7 linked regions of the Homo sapiens genome follow. The protein of the gene in region 5 purifies or fractionates together with the protein of the main gene of each other region. This does not show direct contact. Each region holds a gene or a part of one and is shown on either strand. Other genes may lie near its edges. The genes, in order: C11orf58, ALDH1L1, TIMM9, LYPLA1, OXCT1, WDR1 and SDHAF2.

What was found.
Region 1: the proteins of OXCT1 (region 5) and C11orf58 fractionate together in Homo sapiens (co-fractionation; one large-scale study listed by BioGRID). This does not show direct contact.
Region 2: the proteins of OXCT1 (region 5) and ALDH1L1 purify together in Homo sapiens (co-immunoprecipitation; one large-scale study listed by IntAct). This does not show direct contact.
Region 3: the proteins of OXCT1 (region 5) and TIMM9 fractionate together in Homo sapiens (co-fractionation; one large-scale study listed by BioGRID). This does not show direct contact.
Region 4: the proteins of OXCT1 (region 5) and LYPLA1 fractionate together in Homo sapiens (co-fractionation; one large-scale study listed by BioGRID). This does not show direct contact.
Region 6: the proteins of OXCT1 (region 5) and WDR1 fractionate together in Homo sapiens (co-fractionation; one large-scale study listed by BioGRID). This does not show direct contact.
Region 7: the proteins of OXCT1 (region 5) and SDHAF2 fractionate together in Homo sapiens (co-fractionation; one large-scale study listed by BioGRID). This does not show direct contact.

The regions. Positions count from the first base shown.
Region 1 is NC_000011.10:16,752,147-16,755,646, forward strand, and holds part of C11orf58 (small acidic protein), read left to right. Parts: intron 1-638; coding exon 639-748; intron 749-2,724; coding exon 2,725-2,958; 3' UTR 2,959-3,500.
Region 2 is NC_000003.12:126,103,070-126,105,328, forward strand, and holds the end of ALDH1L1 (cytosolic 10-formyltetrahydrofolate dehydrogenase), read right to left. Parts: intron 1,624-2,259; exon of another isoform or gene 1,542-1,623; intron 897-1,541; exon of another isoform or gene 778-896; coding exon 722-777; 3' UTR 501-721; downstream 1-500. UniProt on the Homo sapiens protein: Cytosolic 10-formyltetrahydrofolate dehydrogenase that catalyzes the NADP(+)-dependent conversion of 10-formyltetrahydrofolate to tetrahydrofolate and carbon dioxide.
Region 3 is NC_000014.9:58,407,995-58,410,531, reverse strand, and holds the end of TIMM9 (mitochondrial import inner membrane translocase subunit Tim9), read left to right. Parts: intron 1-1,363; coding exon 1,364-1,498; 3' UTR 1,499-1,949; coding exon of another isoform or gene 1,950-2,003; 3' UTR 2,004-2,037; downstream 2,038-2,537. Other genes in the region: TOMM20L (TOMM20-like protein 1), read right to left, coding at 1,950-2,003. UniProt on the Homo sapiens protein: Mitochondrial intermembrane chaperone that participates in the import and insertion of multi-pass transmembrane proteins into the mitochondrial inner membrane.
Region 4 is NC_000008.11:54,056,948-54,060,447, reverse strand, and holds part of LYPLA1 (acyl-protein thioesterase 1), read left to right. Parts: intron 1-3,500. UniProt on the Homo sapiens protein: Acts as an acyl-protein thioesterase. Hydrolyzes fatty acids from S-acylated cysteine residues in proteins such as trimeric G alpha proteins or HRAS.
Region 5 is NC_000005.10:41,731,996-41,734,425, forward strand, and holds part of OXCT1 (succinyl-CoA:3-ketoacid coenzyme A transferase 1, mitochondrial isoform 3 precursor), read right to left. Parts: intron 1-2,430. UniProt on the Homo sapiens protein: Key enzyme for ketone body catabolism.
Region 6 is NC_000004.12:10,073,839-10,076,319, reverse strand, and holds the end of WDR1 (WD repeat-containing protein 1), read left to right. Parts: intron 1-835; coding exon 836-942; 3' UTR 943-1,981; downstream 1,982-2,481.
Region 7 is NC_000011.10:61,436,624-61,440,123, forward strand, and holds part of SDHAF2 (succinate dehydrogenase assembly factor 2, mitochondrial), read left to right. Parts: intron 1-1,001; coding exon 1,002-1,225; intron 1,226-1,380; coding exon 1,381-1,490; intron 1,491-3,500.

The sequences.
Region 1 (3,500 bases), on a different chromosome or scaffold from region 5:
TCAGGGCTCCCACTGCTTCTACATTATGGTGAGTTGTACAATTATTTCATTATATATTACGATGTGATAATAATAAAGTACACAATAAATGTAATACACTTGAATCATCTCAAAACCACCACCACCCCCCTCCATGGAAAAATTGTTTTCCACAAAACCGGTGCCTGGTGCCAAAAAGGTTGGAAACTGCTGCTTTAAACTTTTAAGTTGCTCTGATAAACTTGATAAGCAAAGAAAGGCATAAAGAAGAGTCAGTACATGACCATTTTATTTAGCCATTTGCTGAACAGAAGTGCCTAGCTTTTTTCACTGTTTTTGTTCAAAGATAGATAATTCTGTTTGTTAGAGAGTTTTTATTAGGTGACTAGAAAAAAATCTTTCAGGATAACATCTACTTATTATAAGTAAGCTAAAACATTTAATACCCAAAGTGCTTAGTAATAAATATTTATGCTATCTCAACATCAGGCATTTTATTTTCTATTAGGTAACCACCTATGGCATAAATTCTCAAAAGTCATAGTAAAATTAGTCACAATTAGATAAATCAGCCCTGAGTATAATAGCATCTGTATTATGGGTTTTTGTGTAAATTATTAATTTGACTGAAACATAACTAAAGTATCCTGGACATGCAGGGGAAGAAGACAAGAAAATTAATGAAGAACTGGAGTCTCAATATCAGCAAAGTATGGACAGTAAATTATCAGGAAGATATCGGCGACATTGTGGACTTGGCTTCAGTGAGGTAGTAATTAACTTATTTTCATTGGGAAGATAATTAGTTTTCAATTTGGTACCATTTATTGCTGTTAGATTACCCTAGCAATCAAGAATCCCATGTAGAAAGCTTTCTGTATGTAGTTATCTTAAAAATAATTTTGTATATGCCCTACTGGTCTTGTAGATAATCAGGAGAGATGTTTCTAAGGATTTTGTGTGGGGTTGTTTTTTCCTTTTTTTTTGAGATGCAGTCTCACTGTCACCAGGCTGGAGTGCAGTGGTGTGATGTCTTCCACCTCGCGGGTTCAAGTGATTCTTCTGCCTCAGCCTCCTGAGTAGCTGGGATTACAGGCGCCTGCCATCACGCCCAGCCAATTTTTGTAGAGATGGGGTTTCACCATGTAACCAGGCTGGCCTCAAACTCCTGACCTCAGGTGATCCCACCCACCTTGGGCTCCCAAAGTGCTGGTATTACAGGTGTGAGCCACCATACCCGGCCTTTTATTTTTCTTTTGGAGACAGTCTCTCTCTGTTGCCCCAGGCTGGGGTGCAGTGGCTCCATCTCAGCTCACTGCAACTTCCACCTCCCGGGTTCAAGCAATTCTGCCTCAGCCTCCCGAGTAGCTGGGATTACAGGTGCATGCCGCCACACCAGGCTAATTTTTTGTATTTCAGGAGAGATAGGGTTTCACCATGTTGCCCAGGCTGGCCTTGAACTACTGAGCTCAGGCAATCCGCCCACCTCAGCCTCCCAAAGTGCTAGGATTACAGGCTTGAACCACCATGTCCAGCCTCACCTGGCCTGTTTCTAAGGATTTTAAAGTGTGTTTTCTGAAAGTGAAAATTCTGCTTAATCATTAGAGTACCTTTCTTTCCCCCTTTTTTGAGACAGGTTCTCACTCTGTCACCCAGGCTGGAGTATAGTGGCACAGTCTCACTGCCACCTTAGCCTCCTGAGGACCTGGGATATAGGCCTGCACCACCATGCCTAGCTAATTTTTGTATTTTTTGTAGAGACGGAGTTTTGCTATGTTGCCCAGGCTGGTCTCAAAACTCCTGGGTTCAAGCGATCTTTCCGCCTTCCAAAGTGCTGGAACTACAGGTGTGAGCCACCATGTCCGGCCAGGGCACATTTTTAATAGGCGTGAACAACAACATGCTCACAAGTTAAGTAAAATATTTCATTTAGGTTTAAAATAATGGTTTAGGAGAGCTTTTTTATTTTTTTTTCAGTTGTTTCCTAAGTGATCTCTTTTTATATTATGAATTTATGTGTGACTACTGTTTACTCCAAAGTAATACAATGTGCAAAACATTGATAACTGATTTCTACATAAAGGTCAGTGGTTAACATGCCTTATTAATTTAAAAAATTGTTTCTTTCAGGAAAATATAATACCATGGTTTTCAAACTAGGGGAGGGGAGATAGGTGTGTGATCTTCAGAGCACCTCCCCTCTTGTTTTCTTTTGTCTTTTAAGAAATGGAGTCTTGCTCTGTCACACAGGCTGGAATGTAGTGGCATGATCATAGCTCGCTACAGCCTTGAACTCCTAGGCTCAAGCAATCCTCCCACCTCAGCCTCCCGAGTAGCTAGAACTACAGGCATGCACCACCATGCCTGGCTAATTTTTTTCTTTTTTCTTTTTTTTTTTTTAGTTTCTCTCTCTCTCTCTCCCTTTTTTTTTTTTTTTTTTTTTTTTTTTTTTTTTTTTTTAAGAGACAGGGTCTCACTATGTTGCCCAGGCTGGTCTCAAACTTTGGGCCTCAAGCAATCCCCCTGCCTCTCAGCCTCTTGAGTAGCTGGAATCCCAGCCACAGGTATGAGCCACTGGGCCCAGCCAGACAGAGCTCTTTCTTAAAATTCTACTCAAGTCTTAAAGCTGTTGTTCTAATGGCTACAAAGTAGAGTGTTTCTAAGACCGACAGAACTTACGGTCTTTCTCAGATTTTGTATGGGCTAATGTTTATTTTTAAAAGAGCCTGTTGATTGATGTTTTAGGTAGAAGACCATGATGGAGAAGGTGATGTGGCTGGAGATGATGATGATGACGATGATGATTCACCTGATCCTGAAAGTCCAGATGATTCTGAAAGCGATTCAGAGTCAGAGAAAGAAGAATCTGCTGAAGAACTCCAAGCTGCTGAGCACCCTGATGAAGTGGAGGATCCCAAAAACAAAAAAGATGCAAAAAGCAATTATAAAATGATGTTTGTTAAATCCAGTGGTTCATAACTCCCAAACGCTTAGTCTTTGTATTAAAAGTAAGCCTTATTGTTACAATGCACAGTGGAGGACTGCTTATAGAGCACAGACCTTTGTATTATAATTTTTAAAAAGGCCCTTTTAAATAATTACAAAGAGTGTTTGCTTTCAAATGCCATGGGTTACACTTTTATGGGCATGACTATAACCATTTTTGTAAAGAGTAAGAGTTGTATAAAATAAGAAATAAATACAGTACTCAACTTCCTTTCATATTAGCATCATCAACCCTCTAATTCACCTTATGGGGGAAATGCTTCTTTTTGTTTGTGATAGCTATTTTATCATTTCCTTCATATTTTTCTCTTATAAAAATGTATTTGATACTGTGATATGTTCACGAAAAGTATTCTTTAATTATTCTTTGTTATAGTAGAGCTGTTCATTATGGATATTTCTGCTGCCAGTCACAATCTAAATTAATTTTGGCAAAAGATTGGGTACTTAGTTTCCTGTTACTGAGTTAGCTCTACTCTTTTGGACCAAAGCAACATGAGAGCAAGTACTTTTCA
Region 2 (2,259 bases), on a different chromosome or scaffold from region 5:
TACAGGGAGAGGGCACAGGAAAGAGAGCTATAGCTCAGGTCCCTGGGCCAAGGAGAAGCCATAAAGGTACATAGGAGACACCGTGTCAGACGGAAGACAGCTCTGCCTGGCATTCCCAGCTGGGCCCAGCCCTCCACTGCAGGCCCTCGGGCTGGCTACCAGCTGAGAGCACGGCCGTGCTGACAGAGCAGGGGCGAGGGCCCGGCCCCATCTGCTGAGGGAGTCTGAGCTGCTTCCCAGTCCAGGGCTCACCCAGCTCAATCCCCGTCTTCCCACCTGTTTCCCAGGGGTTACCCTTCCAAACCTCCTGCAGCCCTGACTGTCGCAGCTTCTGCTCTTTGGGGCCTGAGATGACCCACACCCATTTCCTCCTGTCTCTCTCCCCAGGTGTCTGGCTCTCCCAGGCCAAGCAACACCATCATACCCAGGTGATTGCGCAACTTCCAGGCCCACCCAGGAACACCCACAGGTGGAGCAGAGAAACGCAGAGATGTGGACGGTCTCTCTTCAGAAGCTTTATTCTCCCTGGGAGGGGCACACCTCACCCAGCCAAGGGCTGCTTCTGACTGGACAGAGGGCGTCCAAGATGCAGACATGGTGTGCAGGCAGGAGGGCTTCCACTAGCCCCCCAGGTGGGAGGTGCTGTGCACCCAGGCTCAAGAGGGAGGGGGCCCCAGCCACGAGGGAGGGGCAGGGACTTTCTTCTCACAAAGACCTTTCTTCAGTATTCGAAGGTCACTGTCTTGACCCGCAGGTACTCGTTCAGAGCCGCCTCTCCTGTAAGACACCACAAAGGTCACAGCAGCTCCCACCACAGGCAGGGCACTGCTCGGGGCTGCAAGTGTCTTATTCCTCAGCAACCACGTGGGGGCAGCTCTGGCTCACCCCACTTCCAGGTGAGAAGTCGAGGCCCAGCGAGGTCATGAATCTTACCCAGGTTATCCCTGGCAGTGGATAGTGGGCCAGGACTCCCCAGAATACAAAGCCAATCTGAGGCAGCCATTTAAGAATCTTCCCCAGCTCCCACCGCCTTGTCTGGACAGTGGGAAGCCCCTTCAGGTGGAAGGGGGTGGAGAGACTTGGCGTTACTGCCCAGACTCACTGGCCCATCTCTTCTCTCATGGCTGCCCCCAGCTACGTCTGCATCAAGCTGTGGCTGGGAAAAGGGGATGCCTCGCAGGGCCCTGAGGCCCCAGGCCTTGGCAGTGCTATGTGGCTGGTGCATCTCAGCCCCATGACAAGTGTGAGGCCTGGGGCTGCCTGACAGCTCCCCAGCAGCTCTGGCTGGCCCCAGGAGTGGCACTGCCCCGTCCCTCTGAGGTCCTGAGTCTGCCCAGGCAGGCTGCTTGGAAGGCTTGGCTTGTGGGCCTGTCCCAGGAGGGTGCTGGTCCTCTCAGCAGGACATGGGGACTAGGGTTAGGAGGGAGCTGAGGGAACTCGGGGAGGATTCATAAGGGGCCCAGATCACGTCCTGGGGACTTGGCAGCCACAGCCTTCCCTGGGTGGCCATGGGCCTCATGGATTCCCCTGGTGGACACCAGGAAGGTGGCCTGGGAGAAGGCAGGAAGAGGAGGCCGACAGGGACAGAGGAAGCAGGAGTGTCCAGCCTACACATGCGTGCATGTGAGTCCAGCCCTGTGGGCACACATGGGCCCCTCTCATGGGTACCCTTGGGGGCTTCTGCAGGGCTTGAAAGATGGGGGCAGGGGGAGGAGAGAAAACTGGAAACAGTGACCAGCCTTTGACCCCCAGCCTCAGCATGACCTTCCCTGTGGTCTCTGGGCTGGCACAGGAGCCTGGAGAGACAGGTGGGACCTCTGAGACAGCATATGGCTTCCCCGGACCTTGCCAGCCACCCTTGCCAAGCTTGCCCATCAGACCTGTCTAGTCCCCCCTGCTGAGAGAGCAGGACGAGGCCCAAGGCTTGGAGCAGCCCAGGGAGAGAGGGCCGGAGCAGAACTCCATGCCACCCAGCAGGCAGAGCACTGGGGAGCCTGTGCTGTGTGCCGGGGGACCCCGCCTGCTATGTGCCGGTGGACCCCGCCTGCTGCCGCCTGAGTAACTTCACCTCTACTGGGAGACTTGCAACACCCGTGGTGTTCACCCGGGGGTACATTTGGTCCCATGGCTCCTCTTTACACTAAGGATGCAACCTGAGCCCCTGACCATGGCCCATGGGCCTTCAATCTGGCCCCTACCTGCCTCTCAGGCCTTCTCTCCTCCCTCCTGCTCCCCCTTGGCCCACTCCCACCACTCTGG
Region 3 (2,537 bases), on a different chromosome or scaffold from region 5:
CACAGCCTTTCTGTATGGCCCTGGGAATTCTGGTTGGCTTTGGAAAAAACAAAGCTTGACTTTGGTGGCTCATATTGAAAACCTCATCCTATTAGAAGTCTTAACTATTTTTTTAAGACAGGGTCTCGCTCTGTTACCCAGGCTGGAGTGCAATGGCATAATCATAGCTCACTGTAACTTTGAACTCCCAGCACATTGGGAGGTCAAGGCAGGTGGATCACTTGAGCCCAGGAGTTCGAAACCAGCCTCGGCAACATGGTGAAACCCTGTCTTTACAAAAAATACAAAAAAAAATTAGCTAGACATGTTGGTACATGCCTGTGGTCCCAGCTACTCGGGAGCTGAGGTGAGAGGGTCACCTGAGCCCGGGAGGCAGAGGTTGCAGTGAGCTGTGATTGCACCACTGCACTCTAGCCTGGGCGACAGAGCAAGACCCTGTCAACAACAACAACAACAAAAAGCACCAGCCCTCATCTCTACTAAAAAATAAAATGAAAAATTAGCCAGGCGTGGTGGTGTGTGCCTGTAGTCTCAGCTACTCCAGGGGCTGAGGTAGGAGGATCACTTAAGCCCAGGAGGTTGAGGCCACAGTGAGGCACTGCACTCCACCCTGGGCAACAGAGAGAGAACCTGTCTCAAAAAAATAAATAAATAGGCTGGGCGCGGTGGCTCACGCCTGGAACTTCAGCACATTGGGAGGCTGAGGCAGGCGGATCACGAGGTCAGGAGATCAAGACCATCCTGGCTAACACAGTGAAACCCCGTCTCTACTAAAAATACAAAAAATTAGCCAGGCATGGTGGCAGGCACCTGTAGTCCCAGCTACTCGGGATGCTGAGGCAGGAGAATGGCGTGAACTCAGGAGGCGGAGCTTGCAGTGAGCCGAGATCACGCCACTGCACTCAAGCCTGGGTGACACAGCGAGACTCCCTCTCAAAAATAAATAAATAAATAAATAAAATTAAAATAAGTAAAAGGTTGAGAATTAAGAATGTTGTTTTCTCATTAAAAAGGAACAAACTTACTACTGGGTCTACATTTTAATAATCGAAACAAGAAGACAGGAATGTGGGCTTTCACTTAATACACTTGCAGAAAATCTAGTCCAGAAGCTTTTTGAAAACAGAGACTTATCATTGCTCTTAGTGACTACAAACTGGCAGGCATTCAATATATATTAATGCTTGTCAGTGAATGAAAGTATCAATTAAAAGCTATGGTCAGTTGCTGCCAATTAGTACTATTTAATTCTCAGATATATTCAAAGAAAAGCAAACTACCCCACTGATTCTTTTAGAATACATGCATTTTAAAAAATTCATATTTTTGTGTTGCCTCTTGGATCTTCCCTTTTCATTCCTAGACCACCTGTTCAGAACATTGCTTACAGAAATATTTAAAAATGACACAAAGAATATCCATGAGATTTCAGGAATATCATATTCAGCAGAATGAAGCCCTGGCAGCCAAAGCAGGACTCCTTGGCCAACCACGATAGAGAAGTCCTGATGGATGAACTTTTGATGAAAGATTGCCAACAGCTGCTTTATTGGAAATGAGGACTCATCTGATAGAATCCCCTGAAAGCAGTAGCCACCATGTTCAACCATCTGTCATGACTGTTTGGCAAATGGAAACCGCTGGAGAAACAAAATTGCTATTTACCAGGAATAATCACAATAGAAGGTCTTATTGTTCAGTGAAATAATAAGATGCAACATTTGTTGAGGCCTTATGATTCAGCAGCTTGGTCACTTGATTAGAAAAATAAACCATTGTTTCTTCAATTGTGACTGTTAATTTTAAAGCAACTTATGTGTTCGATCATGTATGAGATAGAAAAATTTTTATTACTCAAAGTAAAATAAATGGAAATATCACTGAGCAGTTGTTTATACTGTATGGTACCATAGTATTCTCACTGGACTGTGGATACGTTGAAATGTTTTTCAATCAGGATCATCCTCCAAGCAGTCCTGTTCATTCATGTCTGCCTCAAATTGCTGGTGAATACATAAAATAGTTACTTGCTAATCATTTCAATGCATGATCCTTTTCTTGCCTCCCTTGTGTCAGGGTGGGCATTACATATACTTTTCTTTTTTTTTTTTTTTGAGACGGAGTTTTGCTTTCGTCACCCAGGATGGAGTGCAACGGCACAATCTCAGCTCACTGCAACCTCCACCTCCCCAGTTCAAGCAATTCTGCTGCTTCAGCCTCCCAAGTAGCTGGGATTACAGGTGTGTGCCACCATGCCCGGCTAACTTTTGTATTTTTAGTAGAAATGGGGTTTCACCACATTGGCCAGGCTGGTCTCGAACTTCTGACCTCAGGTGATCCGCCTGCCTCAGCCTCCCAAAGTGCTAGGATTACAGGCGTGAGCCACCGCGCCTGGCCACATATCTTACCTACATTTTCGTATATCTTCAGGAAACAATCCCATCTGCCCTAGTTTGGGAATGTTTAAGAGTTGACTGTTATACTGTAATGGAGTTCATGTTTGTGTTTTGTTCAAAAGCTGACAGTCAAATATGATA
Region 4 (3,500 bases), on a different chromosome or scaffold from region 5:
CTATTTTTAACAAATGCACAGGAGGCCGGGCACGGTGGCTCACACCTGTAATCCCAGCACTTTGGGAGGCTGAGGCAGGCGGATCGCCTGAGGTCGAGAGTTCGAGATCAGGCTGACCAACATGGAGAAACCCCGTCTCTATTATAAATACAAAATTAGCCGGGCATGGTAGCGCCTGCCCGTAATCCCAGCTACTTGGGAGGCTGAGCCAGGAGAATTGTTTGAACCTGGGAGGCAGAGGCTACAGTGAGCTGAGATCCCACTGTTGCACTCCAGCCTGGGCAACAAGAGTGAAACTCCGTCTCAGGAAAAAAAGAAAGAAAGAAATGCACAGGTGCACAGGAATGTGCTTTTCTTTTACATATGTGTACTGAAATATTGACAAGTATAATAATGTGAGGACTGGGATTGCCTTCAGGAAAATCTGGTTGGTGACTCTTGAGTGTGGGTGGGTGTAGGTGGGTGTGGGCAGCAATGGCAAGGCAGGCTGGCTGTGAATTGTTTTGCTTTTTGGTAATTTTTTATTTACATAGTTACTTAGAGACTGTCGCCCAGGTTAGAGTACAGTTGGTGATCATATCTCACTGCAGCCTCAAATTCCTGGTCTCCAGCAACTCTCCCGCCTCAGCTTCTGAGTAGCTGGGACTACAGGCATGTGCCACCATGCCTGGCTAATTTTTAAACTGTTTTGTAGAGATGAATTCTCATTATGTTGTCCAGGCTGGTGGGAAACTCTTGCCCTCAGGTGATCCTCCCCAAAAGTACTGGGATTACAGGCATGAGCCACTGAGCGCAGCCCTTTTGTTTTAAAAGAACTCTTTAAGGTCTTTAAAACAGGGAAAATGGCCGGGCGCGGTGGCTCACGCCTGTAATCCCAGCACTTTGGGAGGCCGAGGCGGGTGGATCATGAGGTCAGGAGATCGAGACCATCCTGGCTAACAAGGTGAAACCCCGTCTCTACTAAAAATACAAAAAATTAGCCGGGCGCGGTGGCGGGCGCCTGTAGTCCCAGCTACTCGGGAGGCTGAGGCAGGAGAATGGCGTGAACCCGGGAAGCGGAGCTTGCAGTGAGCCGAGATTGCGCCACTGCAGTCCGCAGTCCGGCCTGGGCAACAGAGCGAGACTCCGTCTCAAAAAAAAAAAAAAAACAGGGAAAATACATTCAAAAGATGTGAGATATTTGGGAATGTCAAACCAACAACACTGACTTATGGGATCATTAAAAAGTAGATTAGAGTTAGAATCCTAGAGTTGGGATTTTGTCTGAAAATAATAGATGACAAAAGTATGAGGGTAAGTGTTAGATGCTATGGAAAACAGGGAGGGCCTGGGCCCTGTGAAGAAGATACGTGGGCCTCATGAGGTCCAGAATGAAAGATTCTGTCCTAACAATAGAGTTGGCCTATGAAATACTTGTTACTTCTTTCCTCTCTGAAAATTCCTCTCAGAGAAAATTAGAATCAGACTCAGCCAGGAAAGAAAAAACAAAAGAGAATGTGCTACTGAACAAAGAAGACAGTGCTCAGGTTACATAGTTGGGGGTACATAGTGCCCTTACCCTTAGGTGAAAGGTGATTGAGGCCAAGGGATGTTGCTCATACCTGTAATCCTAGCACTTTGAGAGGCTGAGGCAGGAGGATCACTTGAGCCCAGGGGTTCAAAACCAGCCTGGGCAAGAGTCGCTACAAAAAAAAAAACAAAATTAGCTGGGCGTGGTGGCGCATGTCTGTGGCCCCCTCAGCTGCTTGAGAGTCTGAGGTGGGAGGATTGCTTGAGCCTGAGAGGTCAGCAACAGAGTGAGACCCTGTTTTGAGAGAGAGAGAGAGAGAGACAGAGACAGAGACACAGAGAGAGAGTGTGAGCGAGCAAAAGAGATTTATTCTGGTTTTTTTTTGTTTGTTTTTGAGATGGAGTCTTGCTCTCTTGCTCAGGCTGGAGTGCAGTGGCGCAATCTCAGCTCACTGCAACCTCCACCTCCTGGGTTCAAGTTATTCTCCTGTCTCAGCCTCCCAAGTAGCTAGGACTACAGGCCTGTGCCACCATGCCCGGCTACGTTTTGTATTTTTAGTACAGACGGTGTTTCACCATGTTGGCCAGGCTGGTCTCAAACTCCTGGCCTCAAGTTGATCTGCTGGCCTCAGCCTTCCAAAGTGCTGGGATTACAGGCGTGAGCCACTGTGCCTGGCCAATTCTGTGATTTTTTTTAAAAAACAATAGAATGAATGGTTTTAAACACTTTTTAAACCATTAACTTAACTACGTACAACACTTAACTACGTACAATTTTAAACACTTAACTACGTACAATTTTAAAATGACAACTTTTAGGTACAAATGCCTATGGTTCATTGAAGAGAGAAACATGGAATATATATGAGCAGAATTAACTATTAATTTTTTAAAAATCCATCTCTTGATGAGAGAAAGAACTGTTGTTAACAAAATATTTAATGGGAAATTATTGAAGTTTTAATTAAAATTTTATTTTTTTATTTTCAATTTTTGTGAGTACATAGGTGTACATATTTATATGTACGTGAGATGTTTTGATACAGGGATGCAATGTGAAATAAGCACATCATGGAGAATGGGGTGTCCATCCCCTCAAGCGTTTATCCTTTGAGTTACAAAGAATCCATTTACACTCTTGTAAGTTATTTTAAAATGTACACTAAGTTACTATTGACTATAGTCACCCTATTGTACTGTCAAATGGTAGGTCTTATTCTATTTTTTTTGTACCCATTAACTAGCTACACCTCACCTCCAGCCCCCTTCTACCCTTCCAGCCTCTGATAACCATACTTCTACTACTGTCTGTGTCTGTTAGTTCAGTTAGTTTTAGATCCCACAAAAAAGTGAGAACATGCAATGTTTGTCTTTCTGTGTCTGGCTTATTTCCCTTAACATAATGATCTCCAGTTCCACTTGTGTTGTTGCAAATGACTGGATCTCATTCTTTTTTTATGGCTGAATAGTACTTCATTGTGCATATGTACCACATTTTCTTCATCCAGTCATCTGTTGATGGACACATAGGTTACTTCCAAATCTTGGCTATTGGGAACAGTGCTACAACAAACATGGGAGTACAGATATCTCTTCAATATACTGATTTCCTTTCTTTTGGGTATATATCCCAAAAGATATATACCCAAATATAGTTAAAAGAAAGATACTTTCTTTTGAGTATATATCCAGTGGGATTGCTGGTTCATATGGTAGCTCAATTTTTAGTTATTTGAGGAACCTCCAAACTGTTCCCCATAGTAGTTGTACTAATTTACATTCCCACCAACAGTGTATGAGGGTTCTCTTTTCTCCACATCCTTGCCAGCATTTGCTATTAACTGTCTTTTGAATAAAAACCATTTTAACTGGGGTGAGACGATATTTCATTGTAGTTTTGATTTGCATTTTGCTGGCGATCAGTGATGTTGGGCACCTTTTCATATGCCTGTTTGCCATTTTTATGTCATCTTTTCGGAAATGTCTATTCA
Region 5 (2,430 bases):
AGGATGAACAAGGCTGGCAACAAGGAGCAGGTGGAAGAGGAGCAGAGGAAAACAAAGGATCCCAATAACCAAGCCCCCTGTCAGATGGATCACTGATCTCCGAGACTGATGCCTCTGAGACTTCACTTAAGACGCAGTACAAACCCCAAGTCTCCAAAACCTCAAAATAGATCCAGCCAATTCATAATTTTGTTGAAAGATGCTTTATGTAATCTTTGGATTACCTAAATACATATTAATGAAGAGACGTATGATCAATGATAAATCTTATCGGAAATTTCATAATCAGAATAGAAATGATACAAAGGCAATAAGAGGATTCCAAGTTATTAAAATATGGAAGTAATAGCATTAAAACAATTAAATGTTGATTATAATTATGTTCAGTGTATAAAACAGTCAATGCTTTCCTGCGAATCTGCAAGCAGAGAAAAGTGACAATGAATGTATATTTAAGGTAGAGCCGGTTGCAGGAGAACCATAAATATAAGTGGTCAGTTTAACTGAGACAGATTTTTCAAAGTGTGGTACCAGGTTCAGATTCCTTAATTCAACATGGCAAATATTGATTGGGTTCTAGTTAGTAACAGTCCCCATGGGAAGCAGGAAATACCAAAAATTGGGTGCTTTTTGAAATTCTGAAAGATGTGGCAATCAAAATGAGCCCAATTAGCATTTTACCTTCCAGAATAAACAATATTTTCTTAAATTGATAAATGAACAAATGAATGAATAAGTAGATAATTATATAAGTTTCAAAGAACTAGAAGGGAGGTTCCTAATAGAGGTTAAATCATCAGTATTAAAAACTGAAAGAACAGGCAGTCATTTGGCTTTCATAAGGTTAAATAGTTTTAGTTCATTTATAAATGTCTGCATTAGCTCTTCACAATTAACTCTTCATAGTATCAAGAGTTAATGTCTTGTCTTCCATTTTTGTACTAAAATATTAAACCAGAATGGCAAAAATGTCTACTAAAAGAATAAATAAGAATAAACAATAATAATAAAGTTCAGCATGATTTGGTATATAGCTTATGGTAAATGAGAACGCATTATGACTTATTTCTAAGAGTAGACATACAGACAAAATAAACAGAATAAGTAGACAAAAAGTAACATCACACATACGCACAGATTTTCAACTCTACTAATAATAACATTTAGTATTTAGATAAGTATATCTCACAGTTCATTTTCTTTCTTTTTTTTAAACAACAGAGCATCTGTGGAAATAATTTAGTGAAACTTTTTTTTTTTTTTTTTTTGAGACGGAGTTTTGCTCTTGTTGCCCAGGCTGGAGTGCAATGGCGCGATCTTGGCTCACCGCAACCTCCGCCTCCTGGGTTCAAGCGATTCTCCTGCCTTAGCCTCCCAAGTAGCTGGGATTACAGGCATGTGCCACCATGACCAGCTAATTTTTGTATATTTAGTAGAGACGGGGTTTCTCCATGTTGGTAAGGCTGGTCTTGAACTCCCGACCTCAGGTGATCCACCTGCCTCAGCCTCCCAAAGTGCTGGGATTACAGGCGTAAGCCACCGTGCCTGGCCCAATTTAGTGAAACTTTTTTACTACAAATCATTTTCTATAGATGCTTCATAGCACTTCCTTTAAAAAGAAACTGGACACATTAATTTTTTTAACTAAACATCTGATCCTTTTCCTTGTCATGTCAGCCCTATTTTGAGCTCTTAATGTCATTTACATTCTCAATGTGAAAAATGACATCAAAAATAAGATAACGCTTTATATAGACTGACTTTGCCTGCTTTTTAATGAAAAACATCTACTAAACCACCATTTCTCATTCTGTTCTCCCAGTCTCATCAACGTTGTAAATTCATGCAAGCCAAAGGAGCTTATTCTGCCAACGTGATCTGCAGGCTAAGCACAAGGTGACATGATTTAGCTATAGAAGACAAGCCAATGATTTGTCTTCCCAGTGCATTAATATCCCAAAAGTATATTGCTTGACTCTGGTAGAATGCCAGTTCATAGTAGATACTGAGAGTATAAATTTATTCAATTAGGCAAGGAATGTCTGCAGCTTCTTTCAGATTCCACTGCAAACATATCAACAAACATTGCTTTTACTAGTTTTTTATTTGTTTGTTTGTTTTGCCACTGGTGGTTTAGGTATATTCCTGCCTGGAGAATAAAGCCAAGGCTCTTGGGAGCAAGAACCATAAATTGGTTCTATTTTATTCATATTTTACAGCTCAATATGGAACATACATTGGGTGTATGACTAGTGACATCTGGAAGTTTATTCTAACACATAATGTTTAAATATGGAATACATTTTTAATTTTTTAAGTTAAGAAGATAAAATCAAAGAAATATTGTTTCAAAAGAGGTCCACAGACATATGGTTTATAAAAACACCTATTTTACATAGCTTAAGCATTCATCAGAAAAGAAACAACCCA
Region 6 (2,481 bases), on a different chromosome or scaffold from region 5:
ACAGAGTGCTAAAGCCTGGCCTCACAGCCAAGTCATGCTTGGTGGTTGAAGGCGCTCCTGGGCACCTGTGCCACCCGCAGGCCAAGGCTTCCTTCATCAGGATGTATGCCGTGCCAGGCAGGGGTGGGGGCTGAATCTCACCCTGTCTAGGTGGGGCTGCAGATCTAGAGGCTGGGGGCCACCCGGACCTGGGGAGCAGAGAGCTGGTGGGAACCCCCTTGCCTGCAGCTGGGAGCCTCCCTGGGCTTCATGGGCAGAGCTAGCCACAGAGGAGCCATAAGCGCACAGGCACCGTCTCACTATTGGCATCTCGGTTGGGTGGAGGCAAGATTATGGGGAATCGAATCTGTTCACCCACGGTGTGACTGTCACAGAGGGGAAAGTCAGTGGCCCCCCCAGTCCTGTGTGTTCCAGCCTCTTACTGGTTGTCATGCCTGCCCCATTTTAATAGGGCATGGATACAGTGTAGCTGTTTGTGTGGTGTCTGCATGTCATCGCTTTTATACATAAGAAGACATTGTTATTTCACTCCTGTGGAACTTGGTTGTCAAGACTTGGAGAGAGGGAGCCACTGGCATCTGTAGGTGGAGCCAGGGATGCTGCTAATTACCCTGCAGCACACAAAAAAGAGGTACCCGGCCCCGGGGTTCAGGAGTGTCACGTGGAGAATTCAGCCACACTGCCACCGTGCCAGGCTCCTGAGTTACAACGATTCGTGGCCATTTTCTTGGCCCTGGAGATGATTTAGGCACAGGTTGTTCCATCTTCCTAGTCCAAGATGTACATAGTTGCAGAGAAGTTTGGCTTTTCGTTAAATTGCACCCTTTCTTCCCAGATGCACACCGGCTGCACCATGTCAGCAGCCTGGCCTGGCTGGACGAGCACACGCTGGTCACGACCTCCCATGATGCCTCTGTCAAGGAGTGGACAATCACCTACTGAGGAGCCCCACCCCCGCCTCTGGATGGACCGAATCAGGGACTAGAGTTTAACTGCAGCGGAACATGTCATTTCTCTATTTCTGTGACGCGCCCCCATGCCCCCACCCCACCACAAGAGGCAGGAGGGCCCAGTCATGACCCTCGTCTCTGCAGGGTGTCTGTACACGTTCTTCTGAAAGCTTTAGACAGTAACAGTTTGCACATGAAAAATAAAGCGAGCACCTAAACAATGTGTGGAGCATAACTAAAACCCACAGCCCAACCAAACCTTGAGAATGCGAAACATTCCAGAGGCAGTAGCCTCCAAAGCACACAGAGCCCCTGGCCCCGCCGCGGCTCTCACTATCTGTCAGGGGAGGTTGTACAGGTGAATGAGCCGGGGGGCTCATGTTCCTGCCTGCAGAACATTTCTGTACTAGTGAGAAGAGGGAATATGCATTGCAGTTCAGCAAAGCCGGAATTCTGTGTTGAACAGATGTCTGTCTCCCTAGTGTGTGACTCACACCTTGTGGCTGCCTTCAGAGCGCCACCTCCAGATCAGATGGGGACACACAACCCCTGGATATGTTTCATTGTCAGATTTTGTGCTTGATTTTAAGAATGGAATTGTGGGTATCTTTCCTTTTTTTTTAATGTATCTTAACTGTTGCCTGTCAGTGTTTACAAACTAGTGCGTTGACGGCACCGTGTCCAAGTTTTTAGAACCCTTGTTAGCCAGACCGAGGTGTCCTGGTCACCGTTTCACCATCATGCTTTGATGTTCCCCTGTCTTTCCCTCTTCTGCTCTCAAGAGCAAAGGTTAATTTAAGGACAAAGATGAAGTCACTGTAAACTAATCTGTCATTGTTTTTACCTTCCTTTTCTTTTTCAGTGCAGAAATTAAAAGTAAGTATAAAGCACCGTGATTGGGAGTGTTTTTGCGTGTGTCGGAATCACTGGTAAATGTTGGCTGAGAACAATCCCTCCCCTTGCACTTGTGAAAACACTTTGAGCGCTTTAAGAGATTAGCCTGAGAAATAATTAAATATCTTTTCTCTTCACTGTGGGTCACTGACTTTGTGTGATGGGGGTGTGTGGGGCGGCTGGGTGGGGAGGAACGTTTGTGGGATTTTCATGGCTTTAGAGGTCTTACCAGTCTGCAGCCTCAGGCAGGAAATGTTTGGAACACAGGATTGTCAGATCCATCATGTGGTGGAAGGGAAGCCCCAGAGAAGGGGCTGGAACCCTCGGTTCCTGCTCCCAACCATACCGCCAGATCACCCTCTGACCTGGGTCACATCCCTGCCCTTCTCTGAGCCTAAGTTTCTTTGTCAACTGAAAACACTGGACCAGATGATGTCTGCATCCCATCTACTTCTCAAATTCTTAGCAGCCTGTATAGCTTTCAGGTAAGGAATAGCATGCATTTAGATGTTAAAAATCAAATTCCCAAACATCCAAATTCATTGCAAAGTGAAAGGCACTGTTCTTTGAAACTGCCTTTTGTACTTTTGTAACAATTGTAAAGTTGTCTAAATGTGCAATCCCAATTAAAAAAAAA
Region 7 (3,500 bases), on a different chromosome or scaffold from region 5:
TCATGATCATGCTTGAGCAGGGAGGGAAGAGACTATGGCAAATGAGTGCTACAAATTTTTCTGCTGGATTCGATGCAGCTGGTTTTGTGCTCACCTGGGGAGCAGGAGCCTCTTACTGGTTTCTGGATTTCTCACAGGGAATTGGTTTGTTTGTTGCTGTTGGCTCAGTGTCTCCATCGGGGAAGGAGGATCTGGGGTTTCCTACTCCACCATCTTCACCTCTTGCTGAGGTCACCACCTTGACATCATATCTTGATAAGTTGTCAACTTCTCTGGATTGGGAGCCTTTGGGGGATTAGGGATCATGCTGTCTCTGTGTGCTCAGGATTTGACACAGGTGAGTGAGTAGAGTATAAACCACACTGTAAGAATTTTAAGGGAGTGCAAAGGAAGGAAAAATTATTTCTGCTGGGATAGTTTCTGGAAAGGCACTGGTTAGGGACACATTTGCAGTTAGGACTGTGTTTTAATTCTAATTGCAGTTACTATTTGGATGATTTTGGGTGAGTTATTGAACCTTCCTGAGCCTCTGTTTCCTTGGCTATAAAGTGGGGACAATATCAGCATAATTTCTTTTCTTTTTTCAGGGGGATAGGGTCCGTTGCCCAGGCTGGAATGCAGTGGTACGATCACAGCTCACTGCAGCGTTGACCTTCCCAGGCTCAGATGATCTTCCCACTTCAGCCTCCTGAGTAGCTGGGACCACAGGCACCATGGTGGGACTACCCCACTATGCCTGGCTAATTTTTGTATTTTTGGTAGAGACAGGGTCTCGCTATGTTGCTCAGGCTGGTCTCGAACTCCTGAACTCAAGTAATCATGCTCGCGTTGACCTCCCAAAGTGCTGGGATTACAGGTGTGCGCCACCACGCCTGGCCAGCAGTGTAATTTCCTCATGACTAAATGTGATTGAATGCATTCAGCACCTAGTAAGCATTGAGTAAATGATAGCGATGATAGTCGTCATTATTGTAAAGATGTTTGTGGTTTGTTCATTTCAGATGCTTGCTCTGTCAAGGCACAGCCTATTGTCTCCTTTGCTCAGTGTGACATCATTCAGACGCTTCTACAGAGGTGACAGCCCAACAGATTCCCAAAAGGACATGATTGAAATCCCTTTGCCTCCATGGCAGGAGAGAACTGATGAATCCATAGAAACCAAAAGAGCCCGCCTGCTCTATGAGAGCAGAAAGAGGGGAATGTTGGAAAACTGCATTCTTCTTAGGTATGGGACTAGGAGTCTTTTTTTTTAAATCGGGCAGCTTCCTGAGCCAGAGTAGGTTCAGAGAGACTCCCAGGAGTAGGAGTCTTGGTGTCACTTCTCTTTTATTAGACACAGCCTTCTCAACCTCTTTTTCTTTTTTTCTTTCTTGTTTTTAGTCTTTTTGCTAAAGAACATCTGCAGCACATGACAGAAAAGCAGCTGAACCTCTATGACCGCCTGATTAACGAGCCTAGTAATGACTGGGATATTTACTACTGGGCCACAGGTACTGGGTATGATAAGCAGCATAATGTGAAAATAGGACAGTTTAGGCTGATTTGAGTCTAGAATTGTATCCTAGATAATTTTTTTCTTTCTTTTTTTTTTTTGAGACTGAGTTTCACTCTCGTTGCCCAGGCTGGAGTGCAATGGCATGATCTCGGCTCACTGCAACCTCTACCTTCCAGGTTCAAGCGATTCTCCAGCCTCAGCCTCCTGAGTACCTGGGATTACAGGCATGTGTCACCACACCCGGGTAATTTTATATTTTTAATAGAGACAGGGTTTCTCTGTGTTGGTCAGGCTAGTCTCGAACTCCTGACCTCAGGTGATCCGCCCGCCTCGGCCTCCCAAAATCCTGGGATTACAGGCATGAGCCACTGTGCCTGGCTTATAATTTTTTTCTTTTATTCATGAAGTAGACACTCAACCCAAACACTGTTCAAATTTTTGTTAAGTGTACAAAATTTATCAGTTAAAGTTCTTTATTTGCGAGACAGAGTGGAAACTTGTTTGTCTCACTTAAGCAAAAAGGAATTTAGTGGAAGGGTATATGAAGCTCACAGTATCAAAGGTTGAAGAAGAACCACTCTGGGAATGGAGTGGAATCAGACAACTAAGTCTGCATAGCCAAAGCTCCTCAATAGTTTCATTCTGGCCGGCCGCAGTGGCTCATGCCTCTAATCTGAGCACTTTGGGAGGCTGAGGCGGATGGATCGCTTGAGGTTAGGAGCTTGAGAGCAGCCTGGCCAACACAGCGAAACCTCATCTCTCCAAAAATTCAAAAATTAGCCGAACATGGTGGCGGACAACTGCAGTCTCAGCTACTTGGGAGGCTGAGGCAAGAGAATCGCTTGAGCCTGGGAGACAGAGATTGCAGTGAGCTGAGATTGCACCACTGCACTCCATCCTGGGCAAAAGAGTGAGACTATGTCTCAAAAAAAAAAAAGTTTCATTCAGGCACTACCTTTATGAGGAATGAATTCTAACTGTGTATAGTTAGGATTAACTTTGGCTATGAGTAAAAAAACATCCAAAACAGTAATGGCTTAAACAAGGTAGAACTGTCTTTCTCATGACAGAAGTCCAGAGGAAGGCACACTCCAGAGCTCATAGAGGGGCTTCAAAAAGTCATGGGTCCAGGTCCCCCCTACTTGCTGCTCTTTCATCCTAGCATGTGTTTTCTACTTCTTGATCCAGGACAGCCATATTTCAGCCCGGAAAAAGTGTGTGGAAGTGCATACCCCTCCTTTGTAGATCCCGCTCAGGAAATTATCCAGCATACTTCCACTTATTTGCCATTGGCCACAGCTTAGTTACTTGGCTACGTCTAACCATAAGGAAAAATAATATAGTCTATTCCATCTGCCCAGCTGTGTTGGAGATTCTGTTATCGATGAAAACTGGATATTAGGGGACGTGTCATTCATTCTGCCACACTCCGGGACTGCTGTTTTTGTGTCTCCACTCAATATTTGTATCAGAAAGTAGCAGCCATTGTCTATGGGTTCCAGGTATGAAGAGTGATAAGACAGAGTCTGGAGCCTTATACAATCACTGGAAAGCCAACAAAGTCCAAATATTTACTCTCCAACCCTTTACAGAACAAGTTTGCCCTGACTTAGCATAATGCATTTGAGATGCGTATCCTTGTTGTTACTTGTATCAATAGTTCATTCTTTTGTGTTGAGTAATATTCCATTGTGTGGATGTACCATGGTCTGTTCATCTTTTGACCAGCTGAGGGACATTAGGATTATTTCCAGCTTTAGGTGATTATAAATGAAGCCACTGTAAACATTTGCATACAGATTTTGTGAACATAGGTTTTAGTTTTTCTTGAGTGAATACTCAGGAGAAGGATTTGCTGGGTCATGTGGTAAGTGTATATGTTTAACTTTATAATAGGGCCAGGTGTGGTAGCTCATGCCTGTAATTTCAGCATGAGATCACATGCTCCTCCTCTGGGAAGCCGAGGCAGGTGGATCACTTGAGGCCAGGAGTTCGAGACCAGCCT